Regions from separate parts of the Homo sapiens genome. Here region 2 is linked to region 1. Evidence: fine-mapped expression QTL. Tissue or cell type: pituitary. Region 1 holds a variant in brackets; the other region holds the start of a gene. All regions are shown on one strand. Distances are between the middles of the regions.

The links. PIP is the estimated chance that this variant, and not a neighbour inherited with it, causes the effect.
Region 2: it holds the start of LYSMD1, and the variant in region 1 is fine-mapped to the expression of LYSMD1 in pituitary (GTEx, PIP 0.99).

Annotation. Positions count from the first base shown.
Region 1 is chr1:151,187,859-151,196,116 of GRCh38, forward strand. It overlaps VPS72 (vacuolar protein sorting 72 homolog), which reads right to left and starts at 2,339. Exons shown (of 6, transcript NM_005997.3): 1 at 2,147-2,339. The coding sequence starts at 2,263. It also overlaps a transcript of PIP5K1A not described here. RefSeq lists enhancers at 2,314-2,383, 2,424-2,483. The variant G/A (reference allele first, on the strand shown) is at 4,685.
Region 2 is chr1:151,161,432-151,169,431 of GRCh38, forward strand. LYSMD1 (LysM domain containing 1) reads right to left here and starts at 4,471. Exons shown (of 3, transcript NM_212551.5): 1 at 3,648-4,471; 2 at 305-669. The coding sequence starts at 3,827. It overlaps TNFAIP8L2-SCNM1 (TNFAIP8L2-SCNM1 readthrough), which reads left to right. Exons shown (of 7, transcript NR_144937.2): 2 at 5,040-5,110; 3 at 5,503-5,591; 4 at 5,690-5,787; 5 at 5,895-5,983; 6 at 6,718-6,907; 7 at 7,555-8,000. It overlaps SCNM1 (sodium channel modifier 1), which reads left to right and starts at 4,713. Exons shown (of 7, transcript NM_024041.4): 1 at 4,713-4,772; 2 at 5,040-5,110; 3 at 5,503-5,591; 4 at 5,690-5,787; 5 at 5,895-5,983; 6 at 6,713-6,907; 7 at 7,555-8,000. The coding sequence starts at 4,722. The coding sequence ends at 7,654. RefSeq lists enhancers at 3,953-4,658, 4,412-4,691, 4,659-5,365, 4,712-4,761.

The DNA of each region.
Region 1 (8,258 bases):
CTGTTCCTACTTTTTGTTTATATTGTAAGCCTCCTTAAATCCTTTTTGGAAGCATGAAGGGTACATATTAAATAACAAGTCGTAAAATGACAGAAATAGGAAAATGGCCTTAGAGGAGGGATGAGAAAGTTCTATTTTAAACTAGTTGGTTAGGGCTGTGTCAGTAATGACTCTGTCAGTGATGTGGGTTTTTTTTTTTTTTGAGACAGAGTCTCACTCTGTCGCCCAGGCTGGAGGGCAGTGGCGCAATCCACTGCAACCTCTGCCTCCTGGGTTCAAGTGATTCTCCTGCCTCAGCCTCCTAAGTAGCTGGAATTACAGGCACACGCCACCACAACCAGCTAATTTTTTGCATTTTTAGTAGTGACAGGGTTTCACCATGTTGGTCAGGCTGGTCTCGAACTCCTGACCTCGTGATCCACCCGCCTCAGCCTCCCAAAGTGCTGGAATTACAGGCGTGAGCCACCACACCCAGCCCCTAAGTCCTGTGGGTTCTATTCCTTAATTTCTCTTGAATCTTTCTGTTTCTCTACTGCCATGCCCCCTTCAAGCCATTCTCATTACAGAGTAAGTAACCTTCCTAAAGTACAAATTTCATCGTGGAATTCTGATGACTCTTCTCAGTCCTCTGGATGAAGAGCAAAATTCCTTAACATAGCTCACAAGGCCCTAAAGGATCTGGCCCATGCCTACTCCCTGCAGGCTTATCAATCTTTAGTCTCCTTCATGCTCTGGAGAATGAAAGTAGACTTGCAGGTCCTAGACCAGGATCTCAATGTCTTTACATACTCAGCCCATCCTGCTCTGTGGACTAACCTTTCTCCTTCTCCTGCTTTTCATCAAGCTAAGGTCTACTTTTCAAACTGTCCTCAGCTTAAACATCATCCCTCCAGGGATGCCTATCCTGATCAACAACTTTGGTTCAGATGTATTACCTTAACACTCTTACACCTTGTTTTAGTCCTTATCACACATTTTTTGTTTGTTTTTGAGACGGAGTCCTGCTCTGTCGCCCAGGCTGGAGTGCAGTGGTACGATCTCGGCTCACTGCAACCTCCTCCTCCCAGGTTCAAGCGATTCTCTGCCTCAGCCTCCTGAGTAGCTGGGACTATAGGCGCACACCACCACGCTTGGCTAATTTTTGTATTTTAATAGAGACAGGGGGTTTTACCATGTTGGCCAGGATGGTCTCGATTTCCTGACCTTGTGATCCACCCGCCTCGGCCTTCCAAAGTGCTGGGATTACAGGCGTGAGCCACTGTGCCCGGCCAAAGCCACTGTGCTCGGCCTATCACACAGTATTTTAACTGTTAACCCAGGCAGTTACCCCACTGGGGCATGGAGTATGTAAGGACAGAGCACTGTTTTTAATATTCTGTTTCCCTAGAGCCTAAAACAACCTATTACCGATGGCATGCTCTGGGTACTCAACACATTTAATAAACGGGTAGATTCAACTAATAAAAATTTAGCAAGTGGCAGCCCAGTCCGGACACCTCACACATAATGTTGAACAAAACAGACCATCTCTAACTTTATACAGTTTACAATGCAATAGAAAAGCATAAGCAAGTAAGCAAACCAAATCTAATTGCAAATTGAAATATGTTCTGTGGAAGAAATAAATGGGGACACTTGTTAGGATAGTCAAGGAAGGGTTATCTTCCTGAGAAAACATTTACACTGAGACCTGAAAGCTGAAAAAGAAGTGGGCTAAGCTCCTCTACTTTTGGAGCGGTTCCTTTCCATGTCTCAGGTGAATAATCCAGCAGTGGGCCAACGAGTATACATCGAGCAACTGTCTACTACTATGTGTGTGCCTCGTGTATGCTGGACGTCAGAAGTACAGTGAAAGATGCAACCACGCAAGTATACGGTAGGTTTCTGCCGTTCTCTGTTCTCTGGAGTGCCTCCGGAGAGCTTCTCCGTCTCAGGCCCCTTTGACCCCATCCAGAGCTCTCCCTTCTAGGACTCCACACTATCCGTTCCCCCGCCTCGCCCCCCGGCTCCGATTCACCCACCCAACTCGAGTATCAGCTCCCAGAGCTCCTCTCTATTCCCCGCCCTCTTCTTCTTTGTCCGGGGTTTCTCCCTTCAGGGCTCCTCTTTGCCTCCTCCCCTCCCTTTTCCCAGGCCCGGATCTTGCCTCTGTGAAACCCCCATAAGTCGTCTGGTAGAACTCATCTTCCTCCTCTGCCTCCAAAAGCCCAGAAAGCCGGTTCCCAGCGGTCTTCCGGGGTGCCCGGCCCCCAGCCAAACTCATACCGCCTACCGAGACTGCGCCGCCACCTGCAGCCCCTCACCAGCTCGGTTTTGGGAGCTCGACGCTCGACATCACTACCTGCGGGTGGCCACCAGCGGCGGAAGTCGGGCGTTTACAGGCAGAAGTAACAGAGTGTCGAGAGACTCCCAGTCCCACCCTCTAAACCCTCTTTACTCTTCAGCCTCTCCTACTCCTGCGCGGATGCTCTAGGCCGCTTGCTCTAGTACCCAGCGATCTCCCTTGCTCAATGAGTCCACTTGGTGGTACGAAGACCCCCATAACCCTAAGTCAACACATTTTATTTTATTTATTTTTATTTTATATATATATATGGTTTTTTTTTTCCGTAGGGACGGAGTCTCGCCTCGCTCTGTCGCCAGACTGGAGTGCAGTGGCACGATCTCGGCTCACTGCAACCTCCGTCCCCCGGGCTGAAGCGATTCTCCTGCCTCAGTCCCCCGAGTAGCTGGGATTACAGGCGCCCGCCACCATGCCCAACTAATTTTTGTATTTTTAGTAGAGACAGCTTTCACCGTGTTGGCCAGGCTGGTCTCGAACTCCTGACCTCAGGTGATCCGCCCGCTTCGGCCTCCCAAAGTGCTGGGATTACAGGCATAAGCCTGCGCCCCCAGCTCACATTTTCTTTTAGAAGAGGTCATTCTCTCCGCTCCAGTCCATTTTCTACACTGCTGCTAGTAGGAAACTTTCTAAAAACCCACGTTTTGCCACTCCTGTCCTCAAACATTTTTAATGGCTCCACATCATCTACAAGATAAAGTCAAAAATCCTTGAGGAAGGAAGCATAGTATTGTGGTTAAAAACACAGCCATAGACATTTATCCAAAGGAAAGGACATAATTCAACCTGAGGAAGCCAATTTAGGAGGAAAAAAAAAAAGGAAATCAGTATATCCAAGAGACGTCTGCACTCCATATTTATGCACCCCCATATTTATTGCAGCACTACTTAGAGTAGCCAAAATAGGAAATCAATCTCTGTGTCCAACAACAGATGAATAAAGGAAATAGGGTGTATATACACAATGGAATACTTTTCAGCCATTAAAAAGAAGAAAATCCTGTCATTTGCAGCAACATGGATGGAACTGGAGGACATGTTAACTGACTTAAGCCACGAACAGAAAGTTAAAACACTGCATGTTCTCACTCATATGTGACGCTTTTAAAAAGTTGATTTCATAGAAGTGAAAGAACAGAGGATACTGGAGGCTGGGAAGAGCAGGGGGAAGGAAGGGACAGGGAAAGATTTGTTAAAAGACACAAAATTGTGGCTCACACCTGTAATCCCAGCACTTTGGGAGGCCGAAGGGGGTGGATCATGAGGTCAGGAGTTCACGACCAGCCTGGCCAAGATGGCGAAACCCCATCTCTACTAAAAATACAAAAATTAGCTGGTCGTGGTGGTGGGCGCCTGTTATCCCAGATACTCGAGAGGCTGAGGCAGAGAATTGCTTGAACTCGGGAGGCGGAGGTTGCAGTGAGCCGAGATCGCGCCATTTGCTCTCCAGCCTGGGAAACAGAGCAAGACTCCGTCTCAGAAAAAAAAAAAAGACAAAATTGGGCCTGGCACAGTGGCTCACACCTGTAATCCCAGCACTTTGGGAGGCTGAAGCGGGCAGATCCCGAGGTCAAGAGATTGTGACCATCCTGGCCAACATGGTGAAACCCCGTATCTACTACAAATACAAAAATTAGCTGGGTGTGGTGGCGCGCACCTGTAGTCCCAGCTACTAGGGAGGCTGAGGCAGGAGAATCGCTTGAACCCGGGAGGCAGAGGTTGCAGTGAGCTGAGATTGTGCCACTGCACTCCAGCCTGGCAACAGAGCAAGACTCCATCTCAAAAGAAAAAAAAAAAAGACACAAAATTACAATTTTTTTTGAGACAGGGTCTCTATTGCCCAGGCTGGAGTGCAGCAGCAGGATCATGGCTCACTGCCTCCTTGACCTCCTGGGCTCAAGCTGTCCTCCCACCTTGGCTTCCAAAAGTGCTAGGATTACAGCTGTGAGCCACCACACTGGCCCCCAATTACATTTGTTTGTTCGTTTGTTTGTTTGTTTGAGATAGGATCTCACTTTGTCACCCAGGCTGGAATACAGTGATGCAATCACTGCTCACTGCAGTCTCGACCTCCTGGGTTCAAGTGATCATCGCACCTCAGCCTCGTGGGTAGCTGGAACTACAGGCTCGTGTCACCACGCCTGGCTAATTTTTTGTACTTTTTGTGGAGATGAGATTTCATCATGTTGCCCACGGTGATCACCTGAGCTCAAGTGATCCCCACTCCTCAGCCTCTCAATGTGCTGGGATTACAGGTGTGAGCCACCTCGCTTGGCCCCAAATTACATTTAGATAGGAGGAATAAATTCTAGTGTTCTTGGCCGGGTGTGGTGGCTCACACCT[G/A]TAATCCCAAAACTTTGGGAGGCTGAAGTGGGCAGATCACCTTAGATCAGGAGTTTGAGACTAGCCTGGCCAACATGGCGAAACCCCATCTCTACTAAAAATACAAAAATTAGCCGAGCACGTTGGCGGGTGCCTGTAATCCCACCTACTAGGAGGCAGAGGCAGGAGAATCACTTGAACCCCGGAGGCGGAGGTTGCAGTGAACCAAGATCGCACCATTGCACTCTAGCCTGGGCAACAAGAGTGAGACTCCATCTCAAAAAAAAAAAAAAAAATTCTAGTGTTCTATATCACTGGGGGATAACTATGATTAACAATAATATTTTCAAATAGCTAGAAGAAGGATATTGAATGTTTGTGCTGGAGACAAATAAATTATATATTTGTGAGGCCAGGCACGGTGGCTCACGCCTGTAATCCCAGCACTTTGGGAGGTTAAGGTGGGCAGATTATTTGAGGTCGGTAGTTCAAGACAAGCCTGACTGACATGGTGAAACCTTGTCTTTACTAAAAAGTACGCAAATTGGCCAGGAGTGGTGGCAGGTGCCTGTAGTTCCAGCTACTTAGGAGGCTGAGACATGAGAATCACTTGAAACCGGGAGGTGGAGGTTGTAGTGAGCCAACGTCGTGCCACTGCACTCCAGCTTGGATGACAGAGCGAGACACCATCTCAAAATAAATAAATAAATAAATGATACATTTTTTAGATGACAGATATACTAATTATCCTGATCTGATCACTAAACATTTTATGTATTGAAACATCACTATGTGCCCCATAAATATGTACAATTATGTGCCAATTAAAAATTAAAATAAAATAAAACAACAACAAAAAGAGAACACAGCTTTAGAGCCAGCCAGACCTGAATTTGAGTGTGAACTTTAAGGTCTTTTAGCTGTATGACTTTGGACAAGTTGCTTTACTTCTCTGAATCTCAGTTTTCTCATCTGCAAAGTGGGACTGATAATAATACCTATCTTTTAAGGTCGTAGAAGATTAAGAGATATAATTATTGGCCAGGTGCCATGGCTCACGCCTATAATCCCAGTACTTTGGGAGGCCGAGGCGGGTAGATCACAAGGTCAGTAGTTCGAGACCAGCGTGGCCAGTATGGTGAAACCCCATCTCTACTGAAAATATAAAAATTACCCAGGCATGGTGGCGGGTGCCTGTAGTCCCAGCTAGTCGAGAGGCTGAGGCAGGAGAATAGCTTGAACCCAGGAGACGGAGGTTGCAGTGAGCCAAGATAGCACCACTGCACTCCAGCCCGGGCGACAGAGCCACATTCTGTCTCAAAAAAAAAAAAAAAAAAAAAAAAAGACAGAGAGAGATAATTCTTGTCAACTGCTTAGCACAGTGTTTAGTAAGTGCATAGTAAATGTGTAGTAGGTGGTAACTACTACATGGCATTCAGTATTCAGATCCTTCATAATTTAGCCTCTCCCTGTCCTTCTAGTCACACCTCCTGCGACATCACTACTCCAGCATCTCTCCCCTAACACCCAATTCTCTGTCATGCCTCTATGCCTTTCTTTCTCCTTAGAATCCCTTTCCTTTCTTTTCTAATTTTATGGGAGAGTGGAGTCTTCCTGAACACCCATTCCTCTCTTTCCAGGCACAATTCATATAACTATGGAGATGATGTCTTCTGTAGTCTCTGGAATAGTTCCAATCTCAAATATTGTCTGTTGTAAAGACTGTTCTCATTTTTTATTCTGAAAATATGGTTATCAAACCATAGCACTTACACAAACTTTATGATGGCACCTATTACATTGTATTCTAATGATTCACATGTCTGTTCCCCTCATTAGTCTGTGATCTTTTTGAGGGCAGGGGCTTAATCTTTTCCTTTTTTTAATTAAAAAAAATTGTTTTGGAGACATGGTTTTGCTCTGTCGCCCAGGCTGGAGAGTAGTGGTGCAATTTTAGCTTACTGCAGCCTTGACCTCCTGGGCTCAAGTGATCCACCCATCTCAGTTTCCTTAGTAGCTGTGACTACAGGTGCGCACCACCACGCTCAGCGAATTTTTGTATTTTTTGTAGAGATAGGATTTTTGCCATGTTGCCCAGGCTAGTCTTGAACCCCTGGGCTCAAGCAATCTGCCTGCCTCAGCTCCCAAAGTGTTGGGATTACAGGAGTGAGCCATCCTGCCTGATGATGGGCTTAATGGTCATCTGTGTATTCCAGGAACTCTAATAGTGCCTGGGACGTAGCTTGGGCTAAATAATGTTAATTGAGTGAATTAATTAATGAATGATTAATTGAATAAATAGCCCATCCTCTTATTGTAGAATCCTTTCCTTGCTCTTGCCAGTCCCCATCACTTCATTCTAATCTTAGAAACTTTTCTGGCCGGGCGCAGTAGCTCATACCTGTAATCCCAGCACTTAGGGAGGCCGAGGCAGGCAGATCACGAGGTCAAGAGATCGAGACCATCCTGGCTAACACAGTGAAACCCTGTCTCTACTAAAGATACAAAAAATTAGCCGGACGTGGTGGTTTGTGCCTGTAATCCCAGCTACTTGGGAGGCTGATGCAGGAGAATCGCTTGAACCCGGGAGGCGGAAGTTGCAGCGAGCCAAGATCGCGCCACTGCACTCTAGCCTGGGCGACAGAGGGAGACTCTGTCTCAAAAAAAAAACAATAATAAAATAAATAAATAAATAAAATAAAGAAACTGTTCTAAGATATGAATGACACTTTAATAAAGGTGTGGGTGTGTACTCACATGTACTGAAGTCTGTACCTGTGGCCCTACTTTGAGGTCATCAGATTGTACCCCCTTTCCCAAAGTATGTATTGGTGAACTCCCTTTTCTGTTTCCTTGGGGCACTAAGCCAACATGTCCTGCTCTGCCCCTGTTTCCACACCCTGCCACGTCACCACAGTTCTACTATGCCAGGAATGTTACCGGGGAGGAGTGGTTCCATGACTCAGAGGACACCCCAGGTACTGAGTGGGAGTGGGGGCGCCCCAGGGACTGAGTGGGAGTTGGTGAAATTAAAAATAAAAATAGTACTTGATGAAAATAAAAATTAAAAATATAAAAAATTAGCTGGGCGTGGTGGTGCATGCCTGTAGTCCCAGCTACTCGGGAGGCTGAGGCAGGAGAATCGCTTGAACCCGGGAGGTGGAGGTTGCAGTAAGCCAAGCGCCACTGCACTCCAGCCTGGGTGACAGAGCCAGACTCTGTCTCAAAAATAAAATAAAATGGAATTCACAGATTAGCTCACAGGGAGAAGATTCCTCTGTTTGACTGCGTTGGTCATTCTGGGATTTATTAGTCTGTTTCCAATTTTAAAATCAGAAACAGCTTTACATCAACACCAGCCGATTTTTTTTTTTTTTTTTTTTTTTTTTTTGAGACGGAGTCTCGCTCTGTCGCCCAGGCTGCAGTGCAGTGGCACGATCTCGGCTCAGTGCAAGCTCCGCCTCCCAGGTTCATGCCATTCTCCTGCCTCAGCCTCCCGAGTAGCTGGGGCTACTACAGGCGCCGGCCAACTCACCCGGCTAATTTTTTGTATTTTTAGTAAAGACGGGGTTTCACTGTGTTAGCCAGGATGGTC
Region 2 (8,000 bases), 27 kb before region 1:
GCTTGCAGTGAGCCAAGATCGCGCCACTGCACTCCAGCCTGGGCAACAGAGCAAGACCCCGTCTCAAAAAAAAAAAAAAATAGTTAACTGTCTGACTCCAATAAGAACACAGAACCCAGTTTTCCACTGCCTCTACCCAGGCCAGCAGCCATCACCTCTGCTCATTATCTTGGGGCCACATGGGGGAAAGGTATCACCTTGCCTCTGTTGGCACTGTCCTTACTTACTTGTGTTTGTGGTTAGGTAAGACAGGAATGATGGAGGAGTCTAGGGAGGAACTTATAAGGAACCATTCAAGACTCACCCATTTTCCCCTTTTTTCAGCTTCTGAGCAGCAGCCTTCTTGGACAGGCTGATCTGTGAATCAAGCTTCTTAAGGAAATCAGAGGCAGAGAGGTCATGGATGGGCGTGGGGGTTTCCTGGCCAGGTGTGGGGAGGACTTCACCATTGGCACGTCCTGCTCCTGTCTCTTGTTTCTTCCTCTCAGTTGAGTGTGGCCAAACTTCACTGTTACTTGGGTGTACTTTTTCCTCTCCATCTTTCTCTTCCTCAGAGTCCAAACCATTGAACAGGTCTCTGGGCTCTGTCAGGATGGGGATGTAGAGGGTTTTCTTCAGGAAGATGGAGTCATTAGTATAAAGGCGGTTTGCACGTTTAATCTGTTCCATCTTAAAAAAAAAAGTCACCAAAATTAAGGACAGTAATAATGATCAATCTTACATCTTGAGCTTTTTAAAGTGACTGTACAGAGTCTTCTTTGATTCCATAACAACCAAGCTAAAGTACAAAGGGCTGACATTATTTCTATTCTATAGATGAGTGGTTTTCACACTTTTTGGTCTTAGGGCCCCCTTACATTTTAAAAAATTATTGTGCAAGCCAGGCGCAATGTCTGATGCCTATAATTCCAGCTACTCAGGAGGCTGAGGAGGGAGGATAGCTTGAGCCCGGGAATTAGAGTCCAGCCTGAGTAATATAGTGAGACGCCATTTCTAAAAATTAAAAAATTAAAAATAAATGAATAAATAAATTAATGAATAAATAAAAATGAAGGAACTGAGGCTCAGAGAGGTTAAGCTACTTTCCTAAAATTATCTATCAAGTTAATGACAGAGCTAGAATGACAATCCTGGGTCTTTTCACTGCTTCTGAGAATGCTTTTCACACTATACTATTAACAATGTCATTAATAAATATTTATTTTGACCTATTTATTCATCACTGGACATAGTGACTGGCATCACCATCTATCTGCCTGGCCTCCCAAGGTAGAAACATCAATGTCATCCTTAACTAATACTTGCCTTTCATCACCATACCAAGTGGTCAACAAAACTGCTTCAAAAATCTCTCTCACATCTGGTCTCACCTTCCTACTGCCAAAGATTTAAAATAGACCCTCAGTATTTCTCATCTGGGGTTATTGCAACAGTTTAACTGGCCTTCCTCGCTCTATTTCTACTCATCCTCCTCTTGGCATCTATCTTTCTAAAAAAATAAATCTGATTAACCCACTACCCACCTATGGCTCCGCACTGGCTAAAAGATAAAAACCAAATTAGCATTCAAGGGCTTTCTCAATCCAGCTCCCAAAGGAAATGTCTAGATTAATCTCCCTCTGCCACCTCTACATTTTGCTATCCTGAACTTTTTATTTTTCTTTGAACATTCCATGATCTTTTTCACACTTTATTCATGCTGTTACTTCTGCCTGAAATGCTCCCACCCCCCTACTATCCCATTCTCTGCTTGGAAAACTTGTATTCATCAACTATCACTCCCTTTGTGCTACCTTCTTCAGGGCTCCCAATGCATACTGTAAATATTGCTATAATAATACATAACCCTACTATAATATTATTCACCTCTTTAAATATCTGCTTTGCCTAAACCCTATAAGTCCTTTAAGGGCAAGGATTGTGACTTGCTGTCTCTGTATCCCCAGGAAGTCATTAGCATCCTACAGACCTTGACACATAGCAGGGGCTCATTAATGCTTTATTTAAAAACTATTACTTATAATTATGTAATTATTATCATAATTAGATAATGAAATATAGAAACTACAGATATAGTGTATTCGTATTTTCTTTCTTTCTTTCTTTCTTTTTTTGGAGACAAGGTCTCACTCTGTCGCCCAGCCTGGAGTGTAGTGGCGCGATCTCGGCTCACTGAAACCTCCGCTTCCCCAGCTCAAGTGATCCTCTGCCTCAGCCTCCCCAGTAGGTGGGATTACAGGCACATGCCACCATGCCCGGCTAATTTTTGTATTTGTTGTAGAGATGGGGTTTCACCACATTGCCCAGAATGGTCCTGTACTCCCGAGCTCAAGCAATCCACCCACCTCAGCCTCCCAAAGTGCTGGGATTACAGGCATGAGCCACCACGCCTGGCCCACCACAGCCCCTTTCCAACTGAAATTTAATCTTTTCTGATTTCCTATCTTTGTGTGTGTGTGTGTGTGTGTGTGTGTGTGTGTGTCTCACTCTGTTGCCCAGGCTGGAGTGCTGGAGTGCAGTGGTGCGATCTCAGCTCATCGCAACCTCCCCCTCCTGGGTTCAAGCGATTCTCCCGCCTCAGCCTCCTGAGTAGCTGGGATTACAGGTGAGCACCACCACGCCCGGCTAATTTTTGTATTTTTAGTAGAGACAGGGTTTCACCATGTTGGCCAGACTGGTCTCGTACTCGTAACCTTAGGTGATCCACTTGCCTCTGCCTCCCAAAGTGCTGGGATTACAGGGGTGAGCCACCATGCCTGACCCCTATTCGTTGTTAATACCTTTACAAACTCACCACATTCTGTCACTTGTAATCATTATTTGTGTCCCTGTTCATTTCTCATTAGGCCATAAATTACATGAGGACAGCAACCATATAGTTTAAGTTTCTATCTCCCAGAAAAGTTATCACAGTGCTTTAAATACAGCAAGCATAAAAATGTTGGCTAAATTCAACATTTGTTTGAGTGAGATGGAACAAGAAAACAGGGGCAGGGATAGGGGGAGTAACCCCATCAACTTCAATGCTGTACATTTTTACATCTATCCAATTTCCCCCATGCATGACCTGAAATACTTGGTGTAGAGTACCTGTTTTGCACAAAGGAGGCCACCTTACTGGAAAGAAGGCAGAGCATTGAGGAGGAACCAAGAGCAAGGAGAGGTGGGCACTTTAGGAACTGAGAACTAAAAATCAGCTCTCCATTAGTTGCTGTAAACGTTTAATCACTCTCAACATAAAATTTTCTGTGTGGTTAATAGAGTCAGACAGACCTGTTTGAATCCCAAATCTGACGCTCATTATTTGACCTTAGCCAAACTGGTTAACCAATCCAAGTCTCAGTTTCTTCATCTGCCAAAAGGGAACGATAAATGTATACTTGATACAGATGTGAGGGTGAAATGAGCTAACGTATGTGAAGCCCTCAGCACAGTGTCTGGCATAATAAAATAGGAGCTGTTCCTCTCCGTTGGAATAGTAGGGCAGGACTTGTGCAACACTGTGATGGGAAAACAAAGATAAAGGCAGAACAGAGTGCAACACATTAGGAACATTTCAGGGGAGGTTACCTAGAAGGGCCACTACATTCTTCTCAGGACTAAATCCCTCCTGACTGTTGTCTTCACCCCAATCCTGGAAAACTCACCGTCACCCCATATTTGAGTGCTAGTCCAGCCAGGGTGTCTCCGGGCTCCAACTGATGCTCCAGGCGTCTTTCCCTCACTGGGGAGCAGGCCGATTGCACCAGGCTTCCATATGAACGAGCCCGGCTCCCTTGAAGCAGTCCTGACCCCCCTGGCGGGGGCTGTCTAGACGGGGAAGCCATCTCTTCACCCTGCCAACAGCTAAGGTTGCAACTAGGGGAGGTACGACCGAGACTGCGACTGACAGGCCTGAAGTCTGGGAATGAATATTCAGGGGATTCCTTTCCCCCTCTCTCTTCCCCTGTGTCCCCGCCTCCCCAGCACTACGCCATCTGCCCCCTCCCGGTTTCTCCTCCCTCCAAGCTACTTATCCACAAATCTGTCCCTTGAGTATTCAGTCCCTCCCTAATTCTCCCCTAAGCACCCCTCCGACTTTGGACTCCCCCACAACTCCTCGCTACATTGACCTCTGACCTTTGAACTCTAGAAATAATCCTCAACACTCTTTCCTCAGTTTGCCCCCAAGTAGCCTGGCCTCAGGGCGCTCCAACATCCCAGCTCTCCCCGGTCCCGGGGTTTGTTTGCTAGAGTCAGGAACAAATCAGGCCCACCCCAGGTGAACTGTCGCCGCAGACGAAGAGCGTGAGGATTGCAAGAATTTGTAGTACACCTTCCACTCAGAGATCCTCAAAGGTCCGCTCCGCATAAGATAGGTCACACCCTCAAATTTCGGCTCCACATCTAGGTTGTTGTCCCTCCAAACGCCTCAGATCCGCCAAGATGCAAGGGCCTGGATCCAGTTGAGCGGCAAGGTCTTTGAGAAAAGACTTCATTTCCCAAAAGGCTCCGCGTCTGCGGAGTCGCAGGGCACCATAGGAAATGCAGTTCCCTCCGAGCACCAGAGAGTGGATTTCCGGATCGCGCAATGCATGCGTGGAAGTGCGTCCCCGGAAGTACGGAGGCCGACAGGAAGAGAAGGAAAAAAGAGAAGGCGCTGTCCCGCTCTTGCTACGGTGGCCTGGAGGAGTGGCGAAACCGGAACAGAGAATTTATCACTTCTGGGACTCACAGTCGTGATGTCTTTCAAGAGGGAAGGAGACGATTGGAGTCAACTCAATGTGCTCAAAGTAAGCGTGAGCGGAGAGGATCTGGAGCCGCTTCAGTCGCTCCCTGAAGGTTGGGAAGGAGCTTTGTTTCATTGCTCTGGCAACAACTCGGGGGTGCAGGAGAGAACCAGGCGACTTAGAGCTGTGTAGTGACTCCTTTTTCGGTCTATGATCGCTGTTCTCCCCAGGGTCCTTATTCCATTTCACTCCTCATTTCTATAATTTCACTTCCACCCCTCTCTCCTATCCCGCTGATCCCGTCCGGATTTCTTCCCCTACTCCCTGCAGAAAAGAAGAGTCGGGGACCTCCTAGCCAGTTACATTCCAGAGGATGAGGCGCTGATGCTTCGGGATGGACGGTAAGAGCAAGGAGTGGCTCAAGCCTGAGGGTTCTGCGGTTAGAGGCTCAATAGACTTTTTTTTTTTTTTCCTTTGAGACGGAGGTCTCGCGGTGCTGCCCAGGCTGCCCTCGAACTCTAGGGCTCAAGTGATCCTGCCTCCTCAGCGTCGCGATTAGCTGGGTTTACAAGCGCATGCCACCACGCCTGGCTTCAACAAACTTTTGTTATTAATTAGGACAGCAGGAGTACCTAGGATTCTTTGGCGGCCAGTGAGGACTGGAAGAAGTGGAGATTGGGTCACCAGGGAGTTGGGTTTTGCAAAGACTGCTAGGACAGGGTGGGACCTATGGCAGGGACGGGCCCAACCCTCTTCCCCTGGACCACTTATCCTCTTCTCTACCCCTGCTCAGCTTTGCTTGTGCCATCTGCCCCCATCGACCGGTACTGGACACCCTGGCCATGCTGACTGCCCACCGTGCAGGCAAGAAACATCTGTCCAGTAAGTTAGGGGGAAGACGGGATGGGGAATAAACCCTCGAAATCTCTGCACACCACTCTTGGTGCTATGCTTTTAATTCTGTTTCCCTTTCTCCTCAGGCTTGCAGCTTTTCTATGGCAAGAAGCAGCCGGGAAAGGAAAGAAAGCAGAATCCAAAACATCAGAATGAATTGAGAAGGGAAGAAACCAAAGCTGAGGTAATCAGAGAGTGGAGAGTGTGTTCTAGGCAAGACCCTGCTGCACACACCAGGCTGGAAGGGCGGAGGGCTGAAGGCTCTGACTCTGTCTCCCATCTCCTTACCAGGCTCCTCTGCTAACTCAGACACGACTTATCACCCAGAGTGCTCTGCACAGAGCTCCCCACTATAACAGTTGCTGCCGCCGGAAGTACAGGTATGGGACGGGAAAGCCAGAGGTAGGAAGGCTCAGAAGGAGACAGATGGCTCTAAAAGAGTTTTCCAGTGTGTATTCTGAGGAATACTAGTGTTCTGGAGATGTTACTTAGTGTTTCAAGAAAAGGAGAATTTTGGCTGGGCGCGGTGACTCACGCCTGTAATCCCAGCACTTTTGGAGGCTGAGGTGGGTGGATCACTTGAGGTCAGGAGTTCAAGACCAGCCTGGCCAACATGGTGAAATCCTGTCTCTACCAAAAATGTAAAAAATTAGCTGGGTGTGTGGTGTGTGCCTGTAATCCCAGCTACTCAAGAGGCTGAGGCAGGAGAATTGCTTGAATCCGGGAGACAGAGGTTGCAGTGAGCCACGGTCACACCACTTCACTCCAGCCTGGGTGACAGAGTGAGACTCCATCTCAAAAAAAAAAGAAAAGAAAGAAAAAGAAAAGGAGAATTTTGTGATTTTTAAATAAAGTTTGGGAAATGGCACTTTGTAATTCTACTTGAAGAATAACAGTTTTAAAAACTATACAAAGTCTTAAGATTAAAAAAAACTTGTAAAATTTTAAGCTAGCCTTTCCCAAATTCATGATTCTGAAATCCTTTGTATGCAGAACTTATTAATATCTTGAGAAATATAGTTTAAGAAGCACTGTTTTAAGAGGTTGGGAGTCATAGGAGAGTTGGCCCTTTCCCTTACTGCTTTTACAGACTATTCTTCTCTACCTAGACCAGAAGCCCCTGGTCCCTCTGTCTCCCTTTCCCCTATGCCACCCTCAGAGGTCAAACTCCAAAGTGGGAAGATCAGTAGGGAACCTGAACCTGCGGCTGGCCCACAGGCCGAGGAGTCAGCAACTGTCTCAGCCCCTGCACCCATGAGCCCCACAAGAAGACGAGCCCTGGACCATTATCTCACCCTTCGAAGGTGAGTATGCCTAATCAGTTTCCTCAGATTTTCTTTTCTCTCTGACACCCTTGTTTCAAAGCTATTGTTTTTCCTTTTTTTTTTTTTGAGATGGAGTTTCACTCTTGTTGCCCCAGCTGGAGTGCAATGGCACGCTCTCGGCTCACTGTAACCTCCACCTCCTGGGTTCAAGCGATTCTCCTGCCTCAGGCTCCCGAGTAGCTGGGATTACAGGCATGTGCCATCACGCCCGGCTAATTTTGTATTTTTAGTAGAGACGGGGTTTCTCCATGTTGGTCAGGCTGGCCTCGAACTCCTGACCTCAGGTGATCCACCTGCCTCAGTTTCCTAAAGTGTTGGGATTACAGGTGTGAGCCACCGCACCCGGACTCCCATTGTTGTTTTCCATCTTTGGTTTCGTTTTGTTTTAGCCACCCAACTTACATGGCTCTCAATTTTTTCTCACTGCTAACTTTTTTTTTTTTTTTTTTTTTTTTTTTGGTAGAGACAGGGTTTCACTATGTTGGTCAGGCTGGTCTCGAACTCCTGACCTCAAGTGATCCACCTGCCTCGGCCTCCCAGAGTGCTGGGATTACTGGTGTGAGCTCACCACTAACTTCTTAATAAGCCTCTTTCCTGATCGATGCTATTTTCTCTGATGTTTCCAGCTCTGGATGGATCCCAGATGGACGAGGTCGATGGGTAAAAGATGAAAATGTTGAGTTTGACTCTGATGAGGAGGAACCACCTGATCTCCCCTTGGACTGATACCCTTTTCCCATTCATTCACAAATAAATTACAATGGGTGCTGAGAACTTAACTTTCCTTAAGTCTGGTTCCTTGTTGGATCTCAGGATTTCAGATCTGTTCATTCTCATTCCAACTACTCCTTGCCTGCAAGGTACACAGCTCTCCACACTCCTTTTTTTTTTTTTTTTTTTTTTGAGGCAGAGTCTCGCTCTATCGCCCAGGCTGGAGTGCAGTGGCACGATCTCGGCTCACTGCAAGCTCTGCCTCCCAGGTTCACGCCTTTCTCCTGCCTCAGCCTCCTGAGTAGCTGGGACTACAGGCGCCCGCCACCATGCCCAGCTAATTTTTTGTATTTTTAGTAGA